Linked DNA regions of Homo sapiens. The protein of the gene in region 4 interacts with the protein of the main gene of each other region in a pairwise test. Each region holds a gene or a part of one and is shown on either strand. Other genes may lie near its edges. The genes, in order: TARS3, BFSP2, GEM and ECSIT.

Region 1 (7,026 bases), on a different chromosome or scaffold from region 4:
TTTCCTGAGATTTTCTGTTTCTTCGCTGACTTTGTAATTTTTGTTTGTTTCAAGTGTGTTAGTAATTGCTCATTAGTTAGTAATTGCATTTTTATGGTGGTTGCTTTAAAATCTCTGGCAGATAATTGTAACATCTTTGTTATTTCAGTGTTACCGTTCATAGATTGTCTTTTTAAATTCAAGTTGAGATTTTTCTTGTTCTTAGCATGATGAGTGATTTTCAATTTCTTAAACCTGGACATTTTCGGTTTTATAGTAAGCCTCTGGATCTTAAATGTTGTTTTAGCTGACTTCCACTGACACTCTTCCAGCAGAGGGAGGACAGTACTGGACAGTTACTGGCAAGTGGGAAAAGCAGTCCAAGCTCCTTTTAGAAAGGAAGTAAGGGGAGAGGAGCTCCTCGTTACTTCTGGGTTGCACAGGTGTTCTAGCCCCCCTCCATGGCCTTTACTGCACACAGAAAGCATGGCCTCATGACCAATTGGCAGTGAGAAAGTCTTATCTTTCCACTAGACGTCTTCTGACACTACTCAAGCAGGACTGGAAGAGGCACCTCATTACTTCCAGGGGAGGGCAAAAGTCCAGGCTCCCCACATAGTCTTCACTGACACTGCTGGGTTGGGGGAGGGGGATGGGATCTTGTTAATGCAGGAGTAAAATTCCCAGCTTCCTAATAAGCCTTCTCTTACCCATTCCAACAGGTATTGAGGTACTTATTTAGAGCCTGCTGAGAGTTAAAATATAAGCTTCTCAATCAGCCTTAGCTGGCATATAAAGGGCCACAGTTTTTTCTGTGGTGTCTGGTTGAAATAGAGTAGATATTGTCTAAAACTTTTCTATCTTTCTAGGCTGCCCCTTTCCTAGTCCTTTGGCTACAGCAAGCAGACTTCTGTTGGCCTGTTTTATCGATGCCTGTTGGCATCTGTTGGTTGCCAAGTCTGGAATATATGTGGCAAAACAAAACAAAACAAAAACACCTAAGGAACTCACTACCATGTTGTTTCTTAGGTCCTGATGTCCATAGCCAGTGTGCCCTTTTTCTCAACACCTTTCAGAGTCTCGTGTTTGTTTTATATGTAATATCCAAGGTTTTTACTTGTTCTTAGAGGGAAGGAAAGGGAAAGCACCTGCTTCATCTTCCCCAAAGCAGGTCTTTTTTGCTCATTGTTTAACTGGGTTGTCTGTTTTCTTATTGAGGTTTGAATATTTGTTAAGTATTCTGGATTCAAGTCCTTTATTTGATATATGCCTCACAAATATTTTCTCCCAGTCTGTAACCTGTCTTTCCTGTCTATGATCAGTATTTTTTGAAGAGCAGAAGTTTTAAATTTTGAGGAATCCAATTTATCAACTTTTTTCTTTTATGGATTGCCCTTTGGTGTCATATCTGAGAAATCATCACCTATCACCTAATTACAAAGATTTTCCCCAATTTTTATTCTAGAAGTTTTGTATTTTTATGTTTGACATTTAGGCCTGTGATTCATCTTAATTTTTTCATATGGTATGAGGTATGAATCCTCATACCTCATGTTTTGCATATGGATACACAATCATTCCAGCATCATTTGTTGAACATATTACCTTTCCTCCATTTTATTGCCTTCGAATCTTAATTAAAAATCAGTTGTCCATATATTTGTGTCTATTTCTAGACTCTGTTTTGCTGATTTATCTATCTAGACCAGCATGATTACTGTAGTTTCTCATAATTCTTGAAACCAAGCATAGTGACTCTTCCAAATTTGTTTTTATCTTTCAAAGTTCTTTTGGCTATTCTAGGTTCTTGTGCTTTCTATACGAATTTTAGAATCAGCATGTCAACTCTTACAGGGAAAAAAGGTCTGCTTGGGTATTGACTGGGATTGTACTGACTTTATAGATCAACTTGGGGATAACTGATATTTTAATAATATTTAGTCTTCCAAACCACGAACAAGGTATATTTCATTTATTTAGGCCTTCTTTAAATTTATCTCAGCAATGTTTTAAAGTTTTCACTGTATAGGTTGTGTATGTATGTATTACTCAGCTTGGGCTGCCAGAACAAAAATCCATAGGCTGTGTGGCTTAAATAAGAATCATTTATTCTTCACAGTTCTGCAGGCTGGGAAATCCAAGATCAATGTGCCAGCTGATTCAGTTCCCTGGTGAGGGCTTTCTTCCTAGTTTGCCAACGGCTGACTTCTCACTGTGTCCTCACACGGCAGAGAGAATCAGAAAGCCTCTGGCATCTCCTTAAAAGGGCACTAATCGTATCATGAGGGTTCCATCTTCATAATCTCATCTACACCTAATTACTTCCCAAAAGCCCCATTTCCAAACACCATCACATTGGGGGTTAGGACTTCAACATATAAATTTTGGGAGTCACAATTCAGTCCATAGCAACATATTTGTCAGTCTTATCCCAAAGTACTATCATATGTTTTGAGATGCTATTACAAATTGTTTCTTATTTGCAATTTCCAAGGGTTTATTATTATGAAATGCATATACAATTCATTTTTGTATGTTGATATTCCATACTACAATTTTTCTAAATTCACCTTACTTCTAATAGCTTTCTGTAGATTCCATCTGATCTCTACATAGATGATCATGTCATTTACAAGAGTTTTAATTCTTTCCAATCTAGGTGTTTTTTATTTCTCTTTCTTAACTTACTGCATCAGAAAGAACCTGCAGTACAATGATCAGAGAAGTAATGAGATAATCCTTACCTAATATCTGATTTTAAGAGTAAAGCATTCAGACTCTCACTATTAAGTATGAGGTTAGCTGTAGGTTTTTCATAGAGGCCTTTTATCAGGTTAAGAAAGTTCCCTTCCATTCCTAGTTTTGAGAGTTTTTATGAGATATGGATGTAGAATTTTGCCAAATACTTTTCCCTGCATCTACTGAGAAGATAATATGCTTTTTGTCTTTTTGTTTGTTTTCTTTTTTTTAGTTTGTGAATGTGGGGAATTACAATGATTCATTTTCTAATGTTAAACTACCTTTTCATTCCTGGGATTCAGTCCATTTGATTAAGATGTCCTTTTTAAAAAATTACTAGATTTGACTTAGTAAAATGTTGTTTAAATTTTTTGATTTTATGTTCATGAGAGATGTTCAGTAGTTTTCTTTTAATTTCTTTGTCTTATTTTTCTATCACAGCAATATTAGCTTCATTAGCTTCATGAGGTGGTGAAGATTTCCTCCTCTTCAATTTTCTGGAAGAGTATCTCTAGATTGGTATTATTCCTTCTTTAATGTTTGGTAGAATTCACCAGTAAAACCATCTTGGCCTGGAGTTTTCTGTGTAGGAAGGTTTTTAACTATCAATTCAATTTCTGTAGTAGACACAGGGCTATTCAGATGATCTACTTCTTCTTGAGTAAAGTTTAATAGTTTTGTCTTTCAAAGATTTATCCATTTCATCTAAGCTGTCAAATGTATGAGCATAAAGTTATTCATAAAACTGCCTTATCTTTTTAACAGCTACAGAATCTGTAGTGATGACATCTGTCTCATTCCTGACATTTTTATTTGTCTTTTTTCCCTCATCAGTCTGACTAAAGGTTTATCAATTTTATTGATCTTCTCAGAGAACCAGCTTTTGTTTTATTTTTACTCTTTATTTTCTATTTCAGTGATTTCTGCTCTGCTCTTTCTTATTTTCTTTCTTTTGCTTCCATTACATTGGGTGTAATTTGTTCTTCTTTTTCTATCTTAAGTAAAAGCTAAGTCATTGATTTTTCTTTTCTAATGCAGGTATTCAGTGCTATAAACATCCCTCTACCACTTAAATCGCATCCTACAAATTTTGATGTGTTTTTATTTCATTTGTTATATAAAATTGTCTAATTTTCCTTTGGATTTTGTGTTATCTATTTTTAATTCTATTGTGGTCAGTTAGGATTAGGGTTAAACATTAGGGTTAATTAAACATTTTATTTTAATTGCATCCCTTTCAACTCACTGAGACTTGTTTTATGGTCCAGAATATGGTCTATTTTAGTAAATATTCTACGTGCAATTTCAAAGAACAAATACTCTGAGCTTTTTGTAGTTCATAAGCGTGATGACTGGGTGTACACACATGTGTAAGATGTACCTCCCTCACACCTCGGTACAACATTGGCATATTACCCACCCCACATGAAGCACATTGGATACAACACTGGCACATTACCCATCCAACATGAAACCAAAGAATGTATATTCTGCTGTTGTTATATAAACATCAATTAGGTCAAATTGTTTGACAGTGAAACTTTGCATGGCAATTTTAACTTGAATTAACACAAAAACTTGAAAAAGTAAATTTTAAGTTCTAGGCGATACTGAAAAACAAAACATCCAGAATTCCACCAAATCCCTTAAAATACTCCACTTAATGGAATTTAGGTTAATAAAATCACTGAAGGAATATATTTCATGTCAAGAGATGATTAATCTATTGACCTAATTTAGAGAATCACAGCAGGTTAGAGCTGAATGAATCTCAGAGACTAGACCAAACGTCTATGTTTCAGTAACTCTGAAAGAATACAAGATGTGTGCGGGGCATCACACTCAATTTGTGACCACACTGCTTCACTCTGTGTTATTGTTTACCTGCTCCACTGTGCAAAAAATGTGAGCATCGTCCTGCTGGAAGCGCCTCACTCTGGTCAAGCCGCTGAGAGTCCCCGACAGTTCATTTCTATGCAGAACTCCAAAATCAGCAAATCTAATAGGCATTTCCCTCCAAGATCGTGGACGATGGGCAAACATTAGACTAGAAAAGATGTGGTAACACACAGCTTTTACACAGCACAGAAATATTAAATAATTATCTAAATATAAAGAAATTACAATTAAGCCTCAAGATTCATAAACTCCTTATTCTAGTTCTTAGATCACCAGGTTAAAAAAAAAATTCTTCCACAAATTAGTGAACCTTGCATTTACATCACTGCAGCACTCTGAGAAAGATGCTTGTCTATTATCTCTTCCCAGAAATGCTGTTCCCTCCCCTTATCCACACAGTGAATCACCATTTACTGTTTATGATTCATTTCAAAGGCTACTTCTTAAATGAAGCCCTCCTAGACATTTCCCAGACAGGGCTAGGCAGTTTCTCCTCACGTTCCTGGAACACCTCAAACATGCCATCATTATGGCACTGGTCTTTTTATAACAGATTGTCTACATGCATGGCCCTGCCCACTCTGCTCATGAGTTCCATGAGGGAATGGTTTGTGTCTTAATCACCTCTGCACTTCTAGCTCCAAGCACAAAAAGCACTCAACTATGTTCTCTGTTGAATGAAAGACTTCTCTCCTGCAGAAAGCACTCCTAGCTTCCATATCCCATTGCCTCTAAGCCACCGTGGTCTTGCTTTCTTATTCTGAGGTGTAAAAAGACAAACTTAAATTCTCTACTTTCATTATAAAGTACGAGGCTATAATTTTAAAGGATGCCTTTGAGAAGATGAGTTAAGAAATTGTTAACACAAGTGTTTTACAATGCAAAACACTAGCATAGCTTCTACCTTCTGTTTAGAAAGAGAGGATACAGAATGTTTACATACCGGTGTTCCTAAAATTAAAGTTATATATATTTTTTACATGACATCATCATAAAGTTAAATTTCTTCTCATCTTCACTTAAAAGGGCAAAGAGCTTTCTTCAGTGTTCAGTTACCGGTTTTAATAATTATCTTCTAGGTAAATTTACTTGAAACTATGTATGTTGATAATACAAAAACTACAATTGTTGGGATTGTTTTTTGTGGACAATTATGCCTATTCAGTTTCAGTTGTACAATATGTTTGTCTTACAAGGTTGAATTTGCATACCAACTTTATGATAATTAGTCTTTCATAGAATCAAAGACAGCATTGATTGTAAAATGTATCTTCATTTTATGTGCTACAAAGAAAGAAAATAACCTATTAATTAAATTATGATATAATGCTAAGATGCCACCAACTATAAGATGCATTTCAACTTCAGAAATGTTGAAATGTGGAAGAAAAATGGTATCTTGGAATCAGTGAAATCCAGAAACCCATTGATTATGACCTCATTGATCTTGTTATAATCCACCCAAACAGTATGAAAGAACTAAATATTCTGCAAATATGAACATGTGAAGTGCATTACTATAAGAAAGACAAATATTATAAAACTTATAAAATTGACACATAACATTATCCTTTAATCAGCACAAAAAAATGCAATGGTTACCAGCTAACATCCCATACCTGCCAAAGATCAAATATATTTTCAAAAGTAAATCCATTCTCCGGAATGAAACAACTTAGTAAAAATTAGTAATCACCACTCTTCAGATTAAAGGGACTCTTTCATTCCACAAAGCATTAAAAGATAATTGTGACGAAGCGTGCTATGTGCTCTCATGAAAAGGTCTGCTTCGCTTTTAATACTCACCAGTGCCCTGGACAATTCATGGGTTTGAGGGCAAAAGTGTCCTTTTCAATCTCAAAGGTAAACATGTTCTCGCTGTAATGCTGCCAGTGGCCTGAGGCTTCCCAGAGTTTACTGTTGTACATATTGGGAGAGAGCACCTCCGTGAAGTCCCGTTTGTGATATTCCTCCTTCAAGATACATGCATTCAACATTAAAATCTGCTAGGGCAGATCACAATTCCATGCAAAGTAACACTATGAGCAAATATTTTCAAATTGGGCTCATGTCCTATATTAATTCATGATTAATGTACCCTCAGTTTTAGGTGTGGTGGTTTCTGGATCTTGGAAGAAAGATTTACATATGCTTAGTATAATTTCTATTGAGTATATTTATTTTATAGCATATAACAGTATATAGTATATAATGTTTTAGTTCTTTGAAAAGTAGTAATTGAAATACAATATATATAGAAACTCACTGTAACTACTCCAAAGTCCTTCTAAACAGGTTTTTTCCTATTAAGAGGCAGAAAAAATTTATAATTTAATAAGCCTGAATGCCATGTTGCATGTTATAATTTTGATTTATTTAGTTTTAAACAGAAATAAGAATTTTAGTGTA
Region 2 (7,695 bases), on a different chromosome or scaffold from region 4:
ACTGAAAAAATCAGGAGCATTTCTCAATTATGGAGTTTTCTTTTGTTCTTCTTGATGGAATAGAGTTTAATATGGCTGAAAGGCTGGGCTGTGCAATATAGAAAAAGTAACTCCAGGCTGGGCATGGTGACTCACTCCTGTAATCCTAGCACTCTGGGAGGCAGAGGCGGGTGGATCACCTGAGGTCAGGAGATCAAGACCAGCCTGGCCAACATGGTGAAACCCCATCTCCATTAAAAATGCAAAAAAATTAGCTGGGCGTGGTGGCGTGCACCTGTAATCCCAGCTACTCAGGACGCTGAGGCAGGAGAATTGCTTGAACCCGGGAGGTGGAGGTTACAGTGAGTTGAGATCGCACCACTGCACTCCAGCCTGGGTGACAGAATGAGACTCCATCTCAAAAAAAAAAAAAAAGAAATAATAACTCCATTTTATCAATTGGTCTTACTCTATCTTCAAGTCCATGATTTTTTAAAAAAGAAGAAAAAGAGAACTTTATTCATACCCAGGCCCTCATTTATAGTCACTTAAGAGGAAAGTGAGCCCATGTGGGATCCTGACCCTCAACTACAGAGGTCGCATGTCTTGGTGTGTGGCTGTGGTGCTCTCACAGGATTTTAGAGCTTCCTAGTCTGTACTCTACCTGTAAGCAGGAGCCAGGCTCTTATTTGTCTACAGATTTGCTGGAATATGTAAGCATTGTTATACCCATTTTGTAGATAATGAAACTGAGGCCCAGAGAAGTTAGTAAGTTGCAAAGGCTCTTGTAGCTATCTGGAGCCAGAACAAGTCAGTATCTATTGAGTATAAACTAAGTTTTGTGGCCCTACTTTTTAACCTAGCCATTGGGATACCTGATTTCTCCTGACAAGTCTGTGTGGCATCTGATTGCAAGCGATTGTCCAGCAGATGCTGACATATTGGAGTATCTAGGGATGTTCTGGTGGTTGTTATGGCACAATATTTGGAATAAGGACAGTTGTGAAGAATCCTGGAGGAATGGCTGCCTCTTAGATTTGACAGGCGTTAAGGCCCTGGACTGTTCTAAGATGGCTCTCCCTTGCAGCCCAGATGGATGCAAGCAGAACAGCAGCACCAGGGGGAGAGCCTGAGAGGATGGTGCTGTTCATCATGCACTCTGTGCTGTCAGTGGGCACTGACAGCAGTGCAGGAGAAGCATCCTGGGATGAAGTGGGAGGCAGGAGGGGCAAATGGGGAGTCCCTGTGTGCAACTGCTTAGCTTCCCCCAGCTATACACAAATAAAATTTTGTGACCTCCTCTTGGGAGGCTGCATACTGGACTCCAGGGGGCCAAGGGTCTGAGTTGGCAGTCCCTGGTGGGTTAGAGACTGATTTTGCTCAGAGGGATCCCAAGGCCAGCATCTGGAGAGAAAGAGGAGGAGGAGAGGTGAAGCCAGCTATCCACAGAGAGACCAGCTGAGAGGTGTAATGCTGGCTGGAGTCCCAGCATTAGAACTACAGGCTGCAGGCCAGACATGATGGATGTGCTCCAGACTCCGCAGAAATCACCCTGGAGAGTGGGAAAAGCAGGGCTGACCAAGCAAGGGAGAAAGATGAAACCTCTGCATCCTTCCCTGTCCAATAAGATAGCCATTAGCTACCTGTGGCTGTTTACATTTAAATTAATGAAAATTAGATAAAATAAAAATGCAATTCCTCAGTCTCATTAGCCACATTTCAAGTGCTTGATAGCCATATATGGCTAGTGGCTGCCAGATTGGACAGTGCAGATATAAGATATTAATATTTCCATCACGCAGAAAGCTCTACTTGAATGTAAATTACCTCATTAATATATTTTGTATTGATTACATGTTGAAATAACATTCTGGACATATAGAGTTAAATAAGCTATAATATTAACTTCACCTGCTTCTTTTTACGTGTTTTACTGTGGGTAATAGAAACTTGTCAATTACCAATGTAGTTCATATTTCTATTGAACAGCGTGGTTGTAGGTGGATACAGGAACACACCTCCATTTATTCATTGTTCTTAACACCTCATCCATCCAATGGTATTTGATTGGATAATAGCTGTAAAAATCCCTTCTCAACAGTAAAGGTGACTGAGGCAGCCCCAGGGTAATGGGGCAAATGCAACTTTGGAGGCACAAAAATTCAGGTTCAAATCTCATCTCCATCCCTCTACTAGCTTTGAAGTCTTGGGCAAATTACATGCCTCAGTTTCTCATCTGAAAAATGCAATCAGTGAATGATCCACTGCATAGCATTTCTTTGAAGTTTAAAGAAGACAGTGGGTAGTGCACGTATGGGGGCTAGCGTGGGCTCCTAGTAAACCTCGGTAAAAGGTAGCATTGTTGTTATCATTACCATTTTAAGTGTGAAAGTGTAGGGGATTATGGTCAGTTTCTCTGGCCTCAGCCTACTCACAACCCTACCCGCTGCCTTCAGCAGCCCCTCCCAGCCCTCTGCAAAGCCCTTGGCACAGCCTGGACACTTACCTGCTGGCAGCTGCTGGCCCAGGAAGCCCGTAGGGCACCCCAGTTTCCCGAGCGTGTGGCTTTGCTCTCCAGGTGCATCCGCAGTTGTGTTTCCAGCTCCTGACTGACTTGCTCAAGGGCGTGCACTTTGGCCATATATTCCACCAGGCAGCCCCCTAGGTCCTCAACAGCACCATGGTCCCTCTCCAAACCTGGAGCCGGCACGGTGGCCAGGCCTGAGCTCCGCAGGCCCTGAAGGAAGACACTGCTGATGCCGAGGGCCCGGCGGGTCACACGGGCACCCAAGCCACCTATGCACCCACTGGGTGCTGTTCCTACATAGACCCCGGGTGCTCGGACAAGGCCACTCATGGCATTGGTCCTGGAGGCTGGGGGGCTCTCCAGGGAGGATGATGACCGTGGCCCCCTGAAGGACGCCCTGCGCCTCTGGAGGGGCATGCTGGAGCTGGCACTGGTGGGCAAGTCCACTACCACTCGCCTCTCACTCATCACCCCTTCTGCCTCTGTGGTGCCCAGTGGGTTTACAGAGTCCAGTGGCTTTTGGTTTACAGCCCCAGCATCCCTGTGGCCTGGTCACGGGCCTCTCTGGAATCTCCCCTATCCCTGGGGCTGCTTTGTCTGCTGTCTTCCATGAGTTTCCATCATTCACTGAGCTGAAAGAGAAATGGGCACTGCCCAGGGCTGTGTGCAGAGAGGCACTCATGCATTCTTTGATGCAGGGTCATGTGCCCAACCTCCCAGATTATTCTGCTGGTGGTGGGGGAGGCTGGATCAGTGCAGGCTGTGGAGGTAGACCATTTGGGTTTGTGCATTTTACTACCTAAGTGGGCAAGGCAGGCATCAAGCAACCCCATTTTACAGATGAGTAAACTGAGGCTCAAGGACCTCAGATGACAAGTGTACTGATCACTTGCCCCAGACCTCAGATTACAAGCTAGGACTCAATCTAGCTATTTCAGGGCTTTCTACATCCCTATGTGTGCTGGCACATGTGAATGTGAACACATGTCCACACAGGCAATAGAGGATGAAAAATGGCAGGAGGCAGCTCCAGGGACCCAAGAGAAAAGACTTGCCTATGGTTTCCTCTCTCAGTCCTGGCAGCAGCTTCAGGTCCTTCCCTCACCTCTCTCCTTTCCTCCTCATCTCTGTCCTCTAATGCTCTGCTGTTCATCAGCTGCTTGCTGTTGGCCAGGATGCTTCCTCCCTCTGGACCTCACTGTCTGAACATTGGCTTGGGCCTTTAACTCTCTGATGCACCAGATAAGGACCTTGGGCAAATTCAGATCCCACACATGTTCCGGCCATTCCCTACACCTCTGCTTCTCCATCTGTTGGAAAACTGAGAAATAAAAACAACAACGAGGGTGTTTTCTGGTAAGCCTCTCCAAGGGTGCCCCAAGTTAGGATATGATGACACCCCTGGGTTTTAATTATTGACCTTGGCATCCACTAAGCCACCAAGGGTCACACCTCAATCACTTCTCTAGGATCAGAAAGGTTCCCCCAGTTACAGGATGACAACATGGACCTAAAAACCTCTGTACATAAGTTTTACCCTGGAGAAACCAGGTCACCAAACCCCAGAGCTGGATACTTTTCCAGATGCTGTAATGTAGGAATGTACCTCAGGTGAGAGAAGGAGAAGGGAGTCAATCTCTAGTGAGTAGCAGATCCAGCCTGGTGTGTGCATGAATCCTATGGTTTATTTCGTGGAATTCTCAACTCAACCTCAGGAGGAAGGAGGTCCAGGGTTGACAGGTACTGCCATATGGGCTGTGTACCTCACAGCTCTAAAATGACATGTCCTACAGTTGGCCACTGTCCTCTTATGTGAGGAGGACCCCGAGAGCTGCAATGACTTGCCCAAGGTTCTATGTCCAGAAAGTAGCAGAGCTGGGGGCAGACAACCTCTTCCAAACTCTGGGCCACTGACTTACTTAGGAGCCTCCCTGTTGCCCACCACCCAGAGAGCAGAGTACCTACCTGAGGTCACGCAGGTAGAGGTAAAAAACCTGGTCGCCTACTAGAGGACCCTGTGTGCACTTCCTTCCTACTGACCAGGACACTCCAACCCTTCCTTTCTTTATTGTCTTCCACTTTGTCTCTCTGAGATGGCCTGGGAGGTATTTTATAAATATCAGTGTTGGCTATTTGATGAACAGATGAAAGAACCAATTGGATTAAGTAAAGGCCAGTAGTGTCCTTGTTTATTCAGATGTAGCATTAATGCTGTGAACACCACCCCTGATGCACCCAGAAGGGGCATGCGAGCCTGTGTTACAGTAACAGCCTCCTATACGGATGACACTGACTTGGTTCTGAGGATCTGCATTATTGTGAATTCCAAGATGTATTGTCCAAGGCTGAATGAAAAGTTCAGGCTACTGATTAAGTTGTGCACAAATGTGTCATGTTTAGGCATTGTTATTCTCTACAGAATGGTAACACTCAATGGCCAGGTTAACTTCAGACTTCTCCGGACCAAAGATATTTACTATATAAATCCACTCAGCCCTGGAGACAGGGAGAAAGAGGGGGGGATGTACTTTGACACCACTGTCTCCAAAGACCTGATGAAAGATGAGTCTGTTTTGGAGAAACTGCAAACATGTTCAAAAAGATTTATTTTATCAAATGATAAACTGCTAATCCTATTAGCTCATCACATACATAAAACTCAACTTACTGTTAAATCAGATTAAAAAATACAGATGGATATAAAGTGGTGTTGGTACTGCTTAAGGAAGACTTAGAGCTTATCTTGAAAAGAATGCAAAATGTATTAGCAACAGAATCCTCTGGCTAATAAAATAAGTTTATTTATATATACATGGTAGCTGAAATCTGTGGATAAGGAAAAATAAGTCATACATCCACATATGTATATATAACATATGTATCTTTGATTACATATATTATATATAAATTTTACTTTACAAACAGATTTTTCTCTGTATACTTACACACATTGGTATATTAAATGTAACAGTTAACAGAAATATTATGGTAAGGTTAAAAAGGTAAGACAACAACACGCTAGAAAATTAAACTTAGAGAAACATTTAGTTGCTTCTTTGTGGGTTGAAGAGTCTTTGAAGAGAGACAACAACCGAACTCATGTGAAGGAGGTTCATACAACATTGAGAACACACTTTTGAAGGCCATCTTTTTTTTTTTTTTAAGGAAAATGCAGAAAGAAAAAAGTCATGATAGACTACAGCAACAACACAAACATATGACCCAATATTCAAGTTCAATTCCCAATCTGACTATAAGAGCATCTATATTCAAAATATACTATCAAACTATTTTTCTTTTAGAGAAAGGAAGTGTCAAAGCAGTAATCATCTCTCTCAGCCACAATCAGGAAAAAATAGAGAAGCGGCCACCTCTGGAAGCCCCTTGGGCGTCTCTGAGGGTCTGACGTTGTTGGCCGTGCTGGACACAGCACGGGGAGGCAGCCAGCCGGCCGGGAACAAGGGGAGCAGTGGAAGCTGAGAGCTGGATGGCAAGTCCACCGGCTGGTGCTGCGAGCAGGTTTGCAGTGCCAAGTAGGAGTATAATGATGTCTTCTCCCAAATGATTTGTTTGGGCAATCTTTTTTTTCTTTTTTAAAGATTGCAGGAGGAAGGTTTCAAAAATTATCGCTCTACTACCTCAAAGCTTCTTAGATAAACATGTTCCTCAGGGGCACGATACCATGGCCTTTTGAGAAAACAAAGCTGAACCCCAATAAACATTTGATCCTTGAAGAAGGAAGGGCAAGCATTTTAAAGCTCCAGGGCCGGGATCTGCATCTAAACCCTCTCCAAGAGAAAGGCACGGGTGTTTAATGCAGATGTGGGTGTTGGAGGGGATACAGGAATGGGCATAAAGGGAGCATTTTCCCACCAGGGAAAGGCAGTCCTGTTGTTAGCAGTGGAAGTAATGTTAGGGGAATATGGCCTTGGGATGCCTTGATGTCCTCCATGGATTCCTGAGGGCTCCATGCTCCTGCCTGCCATCCACAACTTGGATGGAATTAAACATGACATCCAATGGTGCCGTCATAAGGCTCCAGGGTACTCATCCTCAGAGGTGATGAGATGTTCCCTTTTCCTTCTCTGTGCATGAGTCTGCCGTCTTCCCCTGAGGCGGTCCAGTTCCCTTTACAGGTGTGCGTATGAGAAGGGAGGAAATGGGGTCACACCAAATCAAGAGGAACCAGAGCTTTAAGAATCACTCAAAGAATCGTGCGCTTGCACTGTAACATTCAGCTTCTACAGGAGGTCAGTCTCTTACCTCACCTGACCAGGGTTCCTGGGATCCCCAGGTGCTCAAGAATAGTTATTAAGAGAAGCAATCAATGCAACTGCTTTGCTTAGAAATACCTTTATTTTATAAAGCCACAGATCATTCTGTAAAGTTTTTTTTTTTTTTAAACCACACTTGTAAAAAAGATGTTGACAATTCATAGGAAAAAAAGCTGAAAATGTTTCTCATTAAGTCAGGGTTACACAAAGGTTATATTTATAATATATGTATTTGTATATTTATAATTTAGAGACGAAAAATACGGAATGGCAAAGTGATGCCTGCTGTAGTTAGATCTCAGATACTTGATCGTTTCCCACAAACAGTGTTTCTTGACAGAAGGGGTTAACAAGGACCATCCCAGTGTCTCTATAGTCGCCATTGGCTGGGGAGCGGGGCTCTGAGAGCTGGTCCTGGGAAGAGAGAGGGAGGAGATGGAGTGAGCTGGAGAAGGCTTAAGAGGTGGCCATTCTTAAAGAAATGTACACATGGGAACATTTATTTCAGCACTGATGGCTTGGTGCACATTTTCATCATCCCTACTGCTAATGCTGAGGTGCACAGCCCTCTATGCCATTCTTTTAATTAATTTGTGTGTGTGTGTGTATGTGTATATTTTAATTTTTGTGCTGTTCTTTCATATTTTTATAGCAGCTTTCAAAAAATGTTCCCTGCTTCTGGAATCACCCCAATCCCAGGTTGCCAGAGATGGTACTGCTTTCCTTGTCAAAGTCTGAGGGGACTTGCCATGCATGACACACATACAGTGCATGGCTCACTGCACTAGTGGCAAAACTCAGTCCACTTGCACCCAGACTACTTCCTGCCTCTTTCTCACAGACTTCTGGGAAACTTCTCTGCTTTTCCTTCCTGAATACACCTAGACTCACTCGCCTGTTTCCTGCTACCCACCT
Region 3 (7,026 bases), on a different chromosome or scaffold from region 4:
ACTTGCTGATAGGAAAAATAGGAAAAAGGAAGAAAATCGCTTCCAACTCCCTAAAAGCATTGGTCTTCTATGCCTATAAGATGTCTGGTGGCTGTAAAGATTGCTAGCCTGTCCAGTATTTATGCCAAAAAGTTTTCACTTTTCAGTATCTTCTACAGCTTGATTTGATAAATTACACAACTTCTCTGCCAAACAGCATTTCCAATTTCTATTTAATCTACCAAAAATGAGCCTTTTCTGACTTCCCAAAAACTCCCTTTTGCCTTTTCCAAGTGATGAGATTAAGAACACTTTTGTGGGACTAGGAGGGTTTTCAATTAACAGAAGTCTAGCACATAGGTTCTGAAGCTTTTTAAAATCTTTAAAAAGCCAATGTTGAAGACTGGTATTGAGAATCTCAACTTCATATGAGATGGATGTATGTTATTTAAAATAACAGTCAATGCCTGTTTGTATTTTCCCTAAAACAAATAAACTTTTTGGGTGTGTTTTTTAATAGAACTAAAGGCAAGTCACTACAACTTGCTTGTTATTCAGAACTCATCTGTGAACGACCTGTTCCTTAGAACAGTCTCATTCTTCAGCAGTATGCTTTTAATCAAGAAAATGAGCCCACCTCATCTGGAACACCTACTATATAGGACAAGGTCACCCTTGCACCAAACAACTTGTTGAAAGGAAAGCCCTAAAGGAATTTAGAGAGCTACAGGCTCTGCATACCTTATTTTCCCACATATCCAGGAGTATAATCGTTGCACTTTCCCCATCAACCATCAGGGTTCGTTCATATGTATCTTCTAGAGAAGAAAGAACAAAGATATTGGAGTCAGGCGAATATGCAACACTTCTCCATAAGAGGGTCAGGTAGAAAATTGTGCTAGAACATAAACTTACTAAATATGCAATTAATTATGTAAGTATACAGATATTTTCAAAGGCAAATTACTATTTTTTGTCACCTTCAACAACATTCTACATATAATTCCTCCAGTCCTTATCCAGCAGAACGTCTCTCTCGAACATGTGTCACTAAACCACATGGAGTAAAAGGCATTTGTTTGCATCATTCCTGGACCTTTTGTATGGCAAAATCATTTGTGAGGATAAACTTACTCAAGAGCTTTTGACTCAGATTCAATGGTTAATGCTATGAGGAAACATTAACCACCCAGTGAAACTGTAAGCCACATTTTCATAAGTCCATTGTACCTTTCAGTGGGTAGTTACTGAATACTCACTAGCAATTTCAGGAGCTTTGGGCTCAGAGACATTGCTCCTCTTCGGACAAGTGCAAGAATGAATCTTGAGACTCTCCCTGTTTTGGCTGTAGTTTTCTTCCTTTTTTTAAAAAAAATGCTGTTCCCTAGGAATAAGTGGGCTTGTTTTTCCATCTTGAGTATAATAGAAATGCAGCCTCCAGCTCTACTTGGTAATGGAAACTTTCCTCCCTGCACTTGAGCCCAGATCTTGTGTAGGTGAAGGGTGAACACAGTACAGTACAATGGGCCAAAGCAGTTCCAGCCTGGAAAATCCATGGGGGGCAGGCGTAGAAAAGGGGTACAGTGGGATTTTTGCAAGTGGGATTTCCCTCATCCCAATACCATTGAGCCCATCCCCACTCTATTTTCACAATGAGGTTTCCTGTTTTGAATTTCATCTTTTGAAAATTATGACTTTCATAATGATTTATCATTTTTCTTCTGTTCTTTTTGTCTAGAATCTTTTCCCTCAAATACCCACAAGGCCTGTTTCCTTACCTCCCTCTGGGGGAGGTGCTTCCTGGCCATCCATTTAAAATTGCAACACTTCTATCCCACAATATTCCTTCTCTGCTTTATGTTTCTCCATCTCACTTATTGCCACCTAACATACAACACATTTAACTTACTTATTCTATTATTTTCTGTCCCTCCTGCCCCTCTCGTAATGTTAGGGCAGACATTTGCATCTATGCTGTTTACTGTGTCCCCCAGCACATTGGTACATTGCTGGTGCACAATAAAGTTTGTACAGTGAACGAATGATAAATATAGCATTGTGGCTGTGAAAACAAGCAAACCTGAATTCAAATCCAGGTGCCATCCCTTATGAACTCTGGGGGTCTACGCAACTTAGGCTCTCTGAGCCTCAGTTTTCTTCATCTGTGCAATGGGATTGATAATAGTACTCACACCTTAGGGCTATGTGACAATTACCTGTATTAAGCCTGGGCACAAAGTAGAAACTCAGTCAGTGTTAGCCATTATCACTTCTTCAGGTGAAGGAAGCTGGTTCTTGCCATACTCAGCACTTCCTCACTACAGATAAATCCTAGCTTAAGAGAGCTACGTTGGAACCAGGGCACTTCTTGTTTTACAATAGCGAGCAGTTTACGAAAAACACTGCTCCTGGTTTAATGCTTCATCATCTAAGAATTGGAATCAGGAGAGGTTTCCCTTCCTTAGAGAAGGAAAACTTGGACAAATAAGAAGAGAGTTAACCAGGCATGGCCCTGTCTTTCTGTGAGTTTCCCCACCTCCCACAGCGTCATTCTTCTAATCAGTAAGTGTTTGCCCTTGGGGAATTAAAACTCTGTCTCGCCCATCGTGTGCCTGCTCACAATATGCAGAAGGAATGAGATCACAGTGGGACTATTTGGATTACCAGGGGTAGAACCTCACAACCTCAACCTGTAAATTAGACAACGCAAGGGAGACTGTCAGAGCCTGAGCAGCACAGAACGGGGATGGCCTGACTGCTGCTTCCCACCACAGGGTTCTTAGCTCTTCTCTAAAACCCCTCCCTGCACTCAGACAACTCCTTCAATGATGGAGGAACTTTCTCAGCCCACCACTCAGGTACAGGGGACTCGCTTGAGTGCCCAGTCATTCAAATAGAAACATACTGTGTTCCAATCGCTGACGGAAAAGGAAAACCCAACTTTCTCCTGGCTTAAGAGATATCAGAACAAGTCTAGAGAAAAAGTGGACTAAGGATCACAGCCATGAAAGTAAAAACATGCTTTCCCGTTCTAGAAGCTTCCTGACAGGATCATTCTGTCTGATCTTACCTTTGCCTGAAAATTACGGTGTTGGAGGCCTGGGAGGCTAAAACAATCCATCTCCTCCCTGCTCAGCACGTGTGCTCCCCACTTTACCCCCCACCCCAGTACATGAGTTTAGATACGGCCTCTGGCTGTGTGCACCAGGACCCTTCCAGCACACATGGCATCCCGACTGAAGGCTCTCCCCTAACCAGGTGCAAGCCTGGGAGTAACCAGAGCTCCAGGTTTCTCTTCATCTAAGTTGCTCAGCTCATCTTTTATCCTTTTCAAGTGCTAATCAGGTGAGAAGAAGGGAAGGAAAAGAATACCAGACTCTAGGAGAGCTCTTTGAAATCTGCTTCCAGTAAAGGTGTGGAGAAAGGTTTGGATACTGATTAGTCTCTGTGAGGCTTTTCCGTAATCTGGGTCTGGAGACACCCCTACTTCTCCAGTGCACTGGAAGAAAGCTGGGGTGTCTGTGCACACTCTATGTAGCAAAAGAACTCATGCTGATGGGGACAGACAGACGTTCTATAAGGGGTGATGGTGGTCAGTAGCCACTTTCTCTAGACCAGTTTGTCTTTCCTCATTTGATCCCCCTGACAGACTCTCTCCCTGACCAAACTTTAGTCAGGCTCCTCTGAATCCTCTTCTCTACCCGGCCTCTCCCTGGGCTTCCGTTTCCATCCTGGCAGAATTCAGCTTTAGCAAGAATCCTGCTAAGTCAGTTTAGTGAGAATCCCCCACCTTCAATATCTGATCAAATTCCTCACCCACCACCTCTGATAGTCTAAGTCCTTGGCCTGACTTCAGCAAGAATCCCCCTAACCTTGACGTCTCCTCTTAGTAATTTTCCATCCTCTGACCCCCTCCCACCTGCTCCTTGGCCTGACTTCAGCAAGAATCCCCCTAACCTTGACGTCTCCTCTTAGTAATTTTCTATCCTCTGACCCCCTCCCACCTGCTCCTTGGCTAAGTGCCCACTTGTTCTTCTTGTACTTGGAATTGAGCCCCATCTCTCCCCACTATTGGGATGCCTACTGCAATGGCCCTGAATAAAGTCTTCCTTACCATGTTAATAATTTTTTCGTTAACACTCCTTGTGCTTGGAAGTGAGGCCCCTTCTGCCCAAGACTGGCTCAAGTGCTGTGTGTGTGTGAAACCCGCCCAAGTGTTCTCTCACTGCCAGAACTGACTCCTGCAGCACCTCTAAAGTTCTGAGACTCCAGCATCCCTCTCCCTGAAAACTTTCAACTGCTTCCAGCTTTCATAGCTCAGGGGATCCCAAGGAACCTCAGAAGAAATGCCTGCTCTACAAATACTGTCCTCTACTCTACTGGCCCCGGTCCCCTCTGGACAGCTCCACGGGCCCCAGCCAACAGTGACCAAAGTGGACAGGGGCCACAAGCAAGGAAACCACCACTTTTGAAAGATAAGCACATCAAAAGGAAATGGTAGATTCAGAATCAGCTCTAACTAATGCTCATTTCGTACTTACTATGTGCCAGGCACCATGCTCCATGCTCAACATGTTATATCCTTTAATCCTCGTAACACCCTATGAAGGAGGTATTACCCCAATTACACTAATGAGGCAGCTTGAGGAGGCTAAGTGGCTTGTCCAAGAGCACCCAGCCAAGTCAGTGTCAGAGCTGCGTCTAAACCCATCATCAAACCCCAAGCCCAATGAGACTTCCGTACTTTGCTATATATGTGTGGTGTGCCTTCCCACCTAGCTCAGGGCTTCCAAATCCTAGTTGTCCCTAGGGTCCAGTTCAGAGACCATCTCTTCCATGAAGCTTTTATTTATTTTATTTATTTTATTTTATTTTTATTTTTATTTTATTTTATTTCATTTTTGAGATGGAGTTTCACTTTTGTTGCCCAGGCTGGAGTGCAATGGTGAGATCTCGACTCACTGCAATCTCCACCTCCCAGATTCAAATGACTCGCCTGCCTCAGCCTCCTCAGTAGCTGGGATTACAGGCACATGCCACCACGCCCGGCTAATTTTTTGTATTTTTAGTAGAGATGGGGTTTTACCATGTTGGCCAGGCTGGTCTTGGACTCCTGACCTCAGGTGATCCACCTGCCTCGGCCTCCCAAAGTGTTGGGATTACAGGCATGAGCCACCATGCCGGGCCAACCATGAAGCTCTTAAATCCACAGTCAGAGGTAATCTTTTCGCCTCGGAATTCCCACAGCACTCTCCTTACACCACTTTCAAGACATTTACCACATCCTATCTCAATTTCTACTTGGTGTATACATTATGCTCCATTGCATACTGTGAGCATCTCCGCAGAAGAAGCCCCATGACTCTTTGCATGTCCCCAGAGTGCCTCACCAAGCTCTGTGCTATACATTCAGTAACTTCTTAGGAATGAATGAATGAATGAATGGCATTCAGTGTATACAGAGAGTCATAAGATTACTGTAGTGTAACTGTAACAATATCCATCTTTATTAGGAGAAATCATTATGAGAATATTATGTCGATTTTTTTTCTTACAGTGAATGCTGATTTAAAAAAAAAAAAATGTAGGGGTGTGCCTTAGAAAACCTTCCTCTTGGGAAACAAAACCAACTAGTGATTCCAGCAGGTCCTACAGATTCTCTGTGTAAGAAGCTAGGGAAAGGATTCCCTTTCTCTCATGATTGAACCCAAATCCTGTGTCTTTTCATGGTCCCCTGCGGCCCCAGGATCAGCCATATGCCTGATGCCCAATGTGCTGTCATATTGGGCATCTCTCTCTCTCTCTCTCAACAAAGAAGTTCCCAAAATATCTGGGAAGGCTACCTTTCCAAATTCCAGGTATGAGTCAGTCTTCTTAACATTTTATGCCTATGGGAATATTACCCTCTGGATACATACAACTCCATTCTAATGGACAAACATTTTTGAAAGTCTACTATCCACTAACTTTTTTCAATTCTTCCCTCTTAAAAACAAAAAACAACTCCCAGTCCATCTCTTCCTTATGTCAACGCCCAAAGCACTGTATCGTTACTGCTTAAAATATTAGTTAATGTGACCCTGCTCTGCAACATAGCAACTAACACTTAGCTCATTACTAGGGGGCATGGTATACCTCATCCATCGCCTTGTATCCCAGAGCTTAGGCCAGAGCCAGGTGTGTGGCTGATGCCCAATGTGCTGTCATACTTAGTATTTGGAAGCTAAATCCTGGGGCTGCAGGGGGCTATGAAAAGACACAGGATTTGGGTTCAATCACAACTAGATTTGAATCCTGGTCATACCATGTACTAGTTTTTTCACCCTGGGAAAGTCACTTGACTTTGTAAGCCTCCATTTCTTCACCTGTCAAATAGGTATATTAATGCCAGATTGATTCAAGTATTATCAAAAATATGTGTGGGAAGTATTTAACACAGTGCCTGGCACATAGCAAGTTCCCCAGAAATGGTAAAATGAACTGAACTAAGATGATAAAATCCCAAATTCTAAATCCACCTTCCTTATTGGGTGATTCTGGATAAGGCTTTTGATCTCCCTGAGACTTAGTTTACTCATGAGTACAAGAACTTTGTGAAGACCAAAATAAACAGCAGCAAATATAAGGCACCTAACAAAGTGCCTCTCCCGTTGCAAACATTCACTCTAAATGCTAGCCCCTTCCTCCCGTTTCTCTTTCCTAGCAAGTCACCTGGCAGCCTTTACAAAGAAAGAGGGAATCAATTGTACAACACTGGCCCTATTTCTCCCTTTACTCTTCTGAGATTCCAGGAGTGAGGAGAGAAATCAATGTTACAACAATGAGTCATTATTTATAGCCCAGTTCCTGAGCTGCCTCATGAGGCAGTGAACTCCTTGACACTGAGACAATCAAGAAGAATAAAACCTCCAGATGAGATGGGCTGTGGGTAGTGAGGAATAACATTAATATGCATCAATGCAGGGGAGAACTGAGTCATCGCTAAGACACCTCCCTACTCTGTGATTCAGTTGTGAGTCGCGACAGAACACAGACCATGTGACTTGG
Region 4 (7,026 bases):
CCCCAGGCCCTACAGAGGCCTCGGGCCAGTAGGGTGGCCTGGACCCAGCTCATGCCTCTGCTTGTCAGACAATCACCTGGCCCAAAAGAAGATTCAGCATTAGCCTGGCACCTTACAGATGCTAACAGACGCAAGGGCCCCGCAGGGTCGAGGGCACACTCCAGATTATGTGGCTCACTCACCAGCCCCAATGTTTACCTTACCCAAGAAACAGGCTGATGACTCAAAGACTTTGTTCTTGGGACAGCACCCTAATCCTGCTGCCCCAGGGGCGTGATCATAGCTCAATGCAGCCTCCAACTTCTGGGCCCAAGTGATCCTCCAGCCCCAGAGCGTCGAGAAGCTGGGACTACAGACGCGTGCCACCATGCCCAGCTAATTTGAAAATAGTTTGCAGAGACCCAGGGTCTTGCTGTGTTGCCCAGGCTGGTCTCGAACTGTTGGCTTCAAGTGATCCTCCCATCTCTGTCTCCAAAAGTGCTGGGATCATGGGTGTGAGCCAGCACTCCTAGCCACTACAATCTAATTTTACAAAATCTGTGTCACTCCAACAAGAATCCCTGTACCTGGCCAGGCGCGGTGGCTCACGCCTGTAATCACAACATTCTGGGAGGCTGAGGCGGGCGGATCACTCGAAGTTGGGAGTTCGAGACCAGCCTGACCAACATGGAGAAACCCCATCGCTACTAAAAATACAAAAAATTAGCCGAGCATGGTGGCGCACGCCTGTAATTCCAGCTACTGGGAAGGCTGACGTAGGAGAATTGCTTGAACCCAGGAGGCAGAGGTTGCAGTGAGCCAAGATGATGCCATTACACCTCAGCCTGGGGAACAACAGCAAAACTCCATCTCCAGAAAAAAAAAAAAAGAAGAAAAAAAAAAAAGAAAGAAACCCTGTACCCATTAGCACTCAATTTCCCTTCACTCCCAACCCCAAGAAACCACTCATCCACTGTCTCTATAGATCTCCCTATGCCGGCCATTTCATACAAATGGAATCTGGAATCACAAGTGCTCCTTTATGATTGGTTTCCTTCACTTGACATGTTTTTTTTCTTTTTTCTTTTTTTCTGAGATGCAGTCTCGCTCTGTCACCCAGGCTGAAGTGCAATAGTGCCATCTCGGCTCACTGCAACCTTCGCCTCCCGGATTCAAGCGATTCCCATGCCTCAGCATCCCGAGTAGCTGGGATTACAGGTACATGCCACCACGCCCGGCTAATTTTTGTATTTTTAGTAGAGATGGGGTTTTATCACGTTGGCCAGGCTGGTCTCGAACTCCTGACCTCAAGTGATCCGCCAGCCTCAGCCTCCCCAAGTGCTGGGATTACAGGCGTGAGCCACCGCACCTGGCCCACTGACGTGTTTTCAAGGTTCATGCATAGATTTTTTTTTAATTTTTATTATTTTTATTTTTAGACAGGATCTTGCTTTGTTTCCCAGGCTGGAGTGCAGTGGCACAATCTCAGCTCACTGCAACCTCTGCTTTCCGGGCTCACGATTCTCCTGCCTCAGCCTCCTGAGTAGCTGGGACTATAGGTGTGTGCCACTGCATCCAGCTAATTTATAGATTTTTTTGTAGAGATGGGGTTTCGCCATGTTGCCAAGCTGGTCTCAAACTCCTTACCTTGTGATCCGTCCGCCTCAGCCTCCCGAAGTGCTGGGATTATAGTCGTGAGCCACCGCACCCGGGCTTTTTTTTTTTTGAGATGGAGTTTCATTCTTGTTGCCCAGGCTGGATTGCAATGGCATGATCTTGGCTCACTGCAACCTCTGCCTCCCGGGTTCAAGTGATTCTCCTGCCTCAGCCTCCCAAGTAGCTGGGATTACAGGCACCCGCCACCATACCCAGCTAATTTTTGTATTTTTAGTAGAGATAGGGTTTCACCATGTTGGCCAGGCTGGTCTTGAACTCCTGACATCAAGTGATCCACCCACCTTGGCCTCCCAAATTGCTAGGATTACAATCATGCCCGGCCAATTCCACTGTTTTTGGAATGGAATATAACCAGGTTTTGTATGGCTATAACCATATTTTATTTATGCATTCATCAATTGATGGACATTTGGGGTTGTTTGCCAAATGTTTTTGACTGTTATAACTACTACTGCCATGAACATTCGTGTAGAAGTTTTATGTGAACACATGTTTATACTTCTCTTGGGTATATACTTAGGAGTCAAACTGCTGAGACATATGGTAACTACATGTTTAACATTTTTAGGAACTGCCAGACTGTTTTTGGGGATGACTGCACCATTTCACATTCCCATCGGCAACGTACAGTTGACCCTTCATCAACAAAGGCTTGAACAGCATAAGTCCATTTATACGTGGATTTTTTTTTTTTTTTTCAGTAAAAGTTATGGCTGTACGTGGTGGCTAACGCCTGTAATCACAGCACTTCGGGAGGTCGAAGCAGGCAGATCACCTGAGGCCAGGAGTTCGAGAGCAGCCTGGCCAACATGGGAGAGACCCTATCTCTACTAAAAAAACAAAAAAACAAAAATTAGCCAGGCTGGGGGCACACTCCTGCAGTCCCCAGCTACTCAGGAGGCGGAGGCAGGAGAATCACTTGAACCCAGGAGGCAGAAGCTGCAGTGAGCCAAGATCGTGCCACTGCACTCCAGCCTGGGCGAAAGAGGAAGACTCTGTCTGAAAAATAAGAATAAGACCAGGTGTGGTGGCTCACGCCTGTAATCCCAGCACTTTGGGAGGCCAGGCAGGATAATCACTTGAGGTCAAGAGTTCAAGACCAACCAACCAACGTGGCAAAACCCCATCTCTACTAAAAATACAAAAATTAGCCAGGCTCCTTTTGCCGGTGGCGGCAAGCATGGAGAGGATGCCATGAAGGCCTCGGGCACACTACAAGAGTACAAGGTGGTGGGTTGCTGCCTGCTCACTCCCAAATGCCACACACCACCCCTCTACCACATGCGAATCTTTGCACCTGATCATGTCGTTGCCAAGTCCCACTTCTGGTACTTTGTATCTCAGCTAAAGAAGATGAAGAAGTCTTCGGGGAGACTGTCAACTGTGGGCAGGCATTCGAGAAGTACCGCCTGCGGGTGAAGAACTTCGGCATCTGGCTGCGCTACAAACTCCCAGAGCAGCACCCACAACATGTACCAGGAATATTGGGACCTGACCACCACGGGCGCTGTCACCCAGTGCTACCGAGACATGGGCGCCCGGTACCCCACCTGGACCCATTCCATCCAGATCATGAAGATGGAGGAGATAGCAGCCAGCAAGTCCCACCGGCTGGCCGTCAAGCAGTTCCAAGACTCCAAGATCAAGTTCCCGCTGCCCCACCAGGTCCTGCGCCATCAGCACAAGCCACGCTTCACCACCAAAAGGCCCAACACCTTCTTCTAGGGGTAGGGCCCTCACCCAGGTGTGCCCCACGTAAACTCAGGAACGCCCCGGTAAAAAAAAAAAAAATTAGCCAGTCATGGTGGTACATGCCTGTAATCCCAGCTACTCAGGAGGCTGAGGTGGGAGAATTGCTTGCACCTGGGAGGCAATGTTACAGTAAGCTGAGATCGCGCCACTGCACTCCAGCCTGGGTGACCGAGTGAGACTCTGTCTCAAAAAAATTAATTAATTAAATTTAATTAAATAAAAGTTACAACTTTAAACACTGAGGGGCTAGTAAAAAGAAAAAAGGTCGGGCACGGTGGCTCACGCCTGTAATCCCAGCACTTTGGGAGGGTGAGGCGGGTGGATCACGAGGTCAGGAGATCGAGACCATCCTGGTTAACACGGTGAAACCCCATCTCTACTAAAAATACAAAAAAAATAGCCAGGCGTGGTGGCAGGCACCTGTAGTCCCAGCTACTCAGGAGGCTGAGGCAGGAGAATGGTGTGAACCCGGGAGGCGGAGCTTGCAGTGAGCTGAGATCCCACCACTGCACTCCAGCCTGGGTGACAGAGTGAAAGAAAAAAAAGTTACAGCTGAATGTGCCTGCCTCTCCATCTACCTCCTCCACCACCTCTTCTGCCTCTGCCACCCCTAAGACAGCAGGACCAACCCCTCCTCTTCCTCCTCCTCCTCAGCTTACTCAATGTGAAGACGATGAGAATGAAGACCTTTATGATGATCCACTTCCACCTAATGAATAGTAAATTCAATGTGTTTTCCTGATTTTCTTAATAACATTTTCTTTTCTTCAGCTTATTGTAAGATTATAGTATTATATATATATATAACATTAAAAAATATGTTAATCACCCTTTCCCTGCCACTGCCGAGTTGCGCGGAGGCGGAGGCTTGGGTATGTTCAAGATTCAGCTTCACCCATAACCCACTGCCATGGCCGAGGGAGGCATTGCTGCTGGAGGTGTAATGGATGTTAATACTGCTTTACAAGAGGTGCTGAAGACCGCCCTCATCCACGATGGCCTAGCACGTGGAATCTGTGAAGCTGCCAAAGCCTTAGACAAGCGCCAAGCCCATCTTTGTGTGCTTGATCCAACTGTGATAAGCCTATGTATGTCAAGCTGGTGGAGTCCCTTTGTGCTGAGCACCAAATCAACTTAATTAAGGTTGATGACAACAAGAAACTAGGGGAATGGGTAGCGCTCTGTAAAATTGAGAGAAGGGAAACCCTGTAAAGTGGTTGGTTGCAGTTGTGTAGTAGTTAAGGACTATGGCAAGGAGTCTCAGGCCAAGGATGTCATCCAAGAGTACTTCAAATGCAAGAAATGAAGACATAAATCTTTGGCTCACATAAAAAAATAAGTTAATTGACTGTTATGTAATCACTGAGACCTCTGGACAACAGTGGGCTATTAGTAGTTAAGATTTTTTGTTTTGAGACAGGATCTCACTCTGTTGCCCAGGCTGGAGTACAGTGGTATGATCATGGCTCACTGCAGACTTGACCTCCCAACTCAAGCAATCCTCCCACCACTGCCTCCTGAGTAGCTGGGATTACAGGTGTGCGCCACCACACTCAACTAATTTTTACAATTTTTATAGAGGCTGGGTTTCCCTCTATTTTCCAGGCTGATCTCAAACTCCTGGGCTCAAGCAATCCTCCCACCTCGGCCTCCCAAAGTGCTGGAATTACAGAGGTGAGCCACTGCACCTGGCTGGATTTTGGGGGTGTCAAAAGTAGCCTGGCAGGGTGGCTCACGCCTGTAATCCCAGCACTTTGGGAGGCCGAGGTGGGCAGATCACGAGGTCAAGAGATCGAGACTATCCTGGCCAACATTGTGAAACCCCATCTCTACTAAAAGTATAAAAATTAGCTGGGCGTGGTGGCAGGCGCCTGTAGTCCCAGTTACTCGGGAGGCTGAGGCAGGAGAATCGCTTGAACCCAGGAGGTGGAGTTTACAGTCAGCCGAGATTGCGCCACACTGCACTCCAGTCTGGATGACACAGCAAGGCTCCGTCTCAAAAATAAATAAATAAATAGAGCACCCCACTGAAGGCTGGGCACAGCGGCTCATGCTTCTTATCCACTTTGGGAAGTCAGAGTGGGAGGATCACTTGAGCCCGGGAGATCAAGAACAGCAAAAAGAAAAAAAAAAAAGAAAGAAAAAAAATACCAGCTGGGTGTGGTGGCACTCATTTGTAGTCCCAGCTACTCAGGAGGCTGAGGTGGGACGATCACTTGAGCCCAGCAGTTCAAGGTTATATGAGCTATGATTGTGCTACCACACTCTGGCTTGGGTGACAGAGTGAGACCCTATCTCAAAAATAAAAAAATAAAAAATAAAAAGCACTCTGGCCAGGCGCAGTGGCTCATGCCTGTAATCCCAGCAATTTGGGAAGCCAAGGCGGGTGGATCACAAGGTCAGGAGTTCAAGACCAGCTTGGCCAAGATGGTGAAACCCCGTCTCTACTAAAAATACAAAAATTAGCGGGACAGGGTGGCGGGCGCCTATAATCCCAGCTACTAGGGAGGCTGAGGCAGGAGAATCACTTGGACCTGGGAGACAGAGGTTGCAGTGAGCCGAGATTGCACCACTGCACTCCAGCCTGGGCAACAGAGTGCAACTTCATCTCAAAAAAAATAAATAAATAAAAATAAACATAAAAAGCACTGCAATGACTTTCATATGCACCTAGGATTAAGACCTTAATTTAAATTTTCAGGGCCAGGCTCGGTGGCTCATGCCTGTAATCCTAGCACTTTGGGAGGCCATGGTGGGAGGACTGGTTGAGCCCAGGAGTCCAATACCAGCCCTGACAACATAGCCAGACACTGTCTCTATAAAAAAATTTAAAAATTAACCAGGCATGGTAGTATACACCTGTCTGTGTTCTCATTCCTTGGGAGGCTGAGGTGGGAGGATCACATGAGCCTGGGAGGTCCAAGCTACAGTAAACCAAGTTCATGCCACACACTCCAGCCTGAGCAACACAGCAAGACCCTGACTCAAAACAAAAAAACAAAAACAAAAACAAAAAAACTACAGCTACTTAAAGTGTGTTCTAGGGACTGGCAGTGTCAGCAACATTTGGAAGTTTATTAGAATAGCAAAATTTGGCCGGGCATGGTGACTCACGTGTGTAATCCCAGCACGTTGGGAGGTCCAGGCCAGCTGATCACCTGAGGTCGGGAGTTCGAGACCAGCCTGACCAACATGGAGAAACCCTGTCTCTACTAACAAAAAAAAAAAAAAAAAAATACAAAATTAGCCGGGTGTGGTGTATGCTTGTAATTCCAGCTACTTGGGAGGCTGAGGCAGGAGAATTGCTTGAACCTGGGAGGCAGAGCTTGTAGTGAGCCAAGAGCACACCATTGCACTCCAGCCTGGGCAACAAGAGCGAAACTCCATCTCAAAAAAAAAGCAAAATCTCGGCCCTATCCCAGACCTACTGAACTGGAATCTGCATTTTTTTTTTTCCCAGGCGGAGTCTTGCTCTGTCGCCCAGGCTGGAGTGCAGTGGTGCAATCTTGGCTCACTGCAACCTCCGTATCCTGGGTTCAAGCAATTATCCTGCCTCAGCCTCCCGAGTAGCTGGGATTACAGGCACATGCCACCATGCCTGGCTAATTTTTGCGTTCT

Evidence for each region.
Region 1: the proteins of ECSIT (region 4) and TARS3 interact in binary tests that used the Homo sapiens proteins (3 or more experiments, as listed by UniProt).
Region 2: the proteins of ECSIT (region 4) and BFSP2 interact in binary tests that used the Homo sapiens proteins (3 or more experiments, as listed by UniProt).
Region 3: the proteins of ECSIT (region 4) and GEM interact in binary tests that used the Homo sapiens proteins (3 or more experiments, as listed by UniProt).

What each region holds. Positions count from the first base shown.
Region 1 is NC_000015.10:101,679,473-101,686,498, forward strand, and holds part of TARS3 (threonine--tRNA ligase 2, cytoplasmic), read right to left. Parts: intron 6,591-7,026; coding exon 6,424-6,590; intron 4,766-6,423; coding exon 4,603-4,765; intron 4,145-4,602; exon of another isoform or gene 4,043-4,144; intron 1-4,042. UniProt on the Homo sapiens protein: Catalyzes the attachment of threonine to tRNA(Thr) in a two-step reaction: threonine is first activated by ATP to form Thr-AMP and then transferred to the acceptor end of tRNA(Thr).
Region 2 is NC_000003.12:133,395,363-133,403,057, reverse strand, and holds the start of BFSP2 (phakinin), read right to left. Parts: upstream 3,003-7,695; 5' UTR 2,975-3,002; coding exon 2,486-2,974; intron 1-2,485. Other genes in the region: TMEM108 (transmembrane protein 108 isoform 1 precursor), read right to left, coding at 7,072-7,194.
Region 3 is NC_000008.11:94,252,316-94,259,341, forward strand, and holds part of GEM (GTP-binding protein GEM), read right to left. Parts: intron 798-7,026; coding exon 721-797; intron 1-720. UniProt on the Homo sapiens protein: Could be a regulatory protein, possibly participating in receptor-mediated signal transduction at the plasma membrane. Has guanine nucleotide-binding activity but undetectable intrinsic GTPase activity.
Region 4 is NC_000019.10:11,519,118-11,526,143, forward strand, and holds part of ECSIT (evolutionarily conserved signaling intermediate in Toll pathway, mitochondrial isoform 1 precursor), read right to left. Parts: intron 4,737-7,026; exon of another isoform or gene 4,239-4,736; intron 3,434-4,238; exon of another isoform or gene 2,814-3,433; intron 77-2,813; 5' UTR 54-76; coding exon 1-53.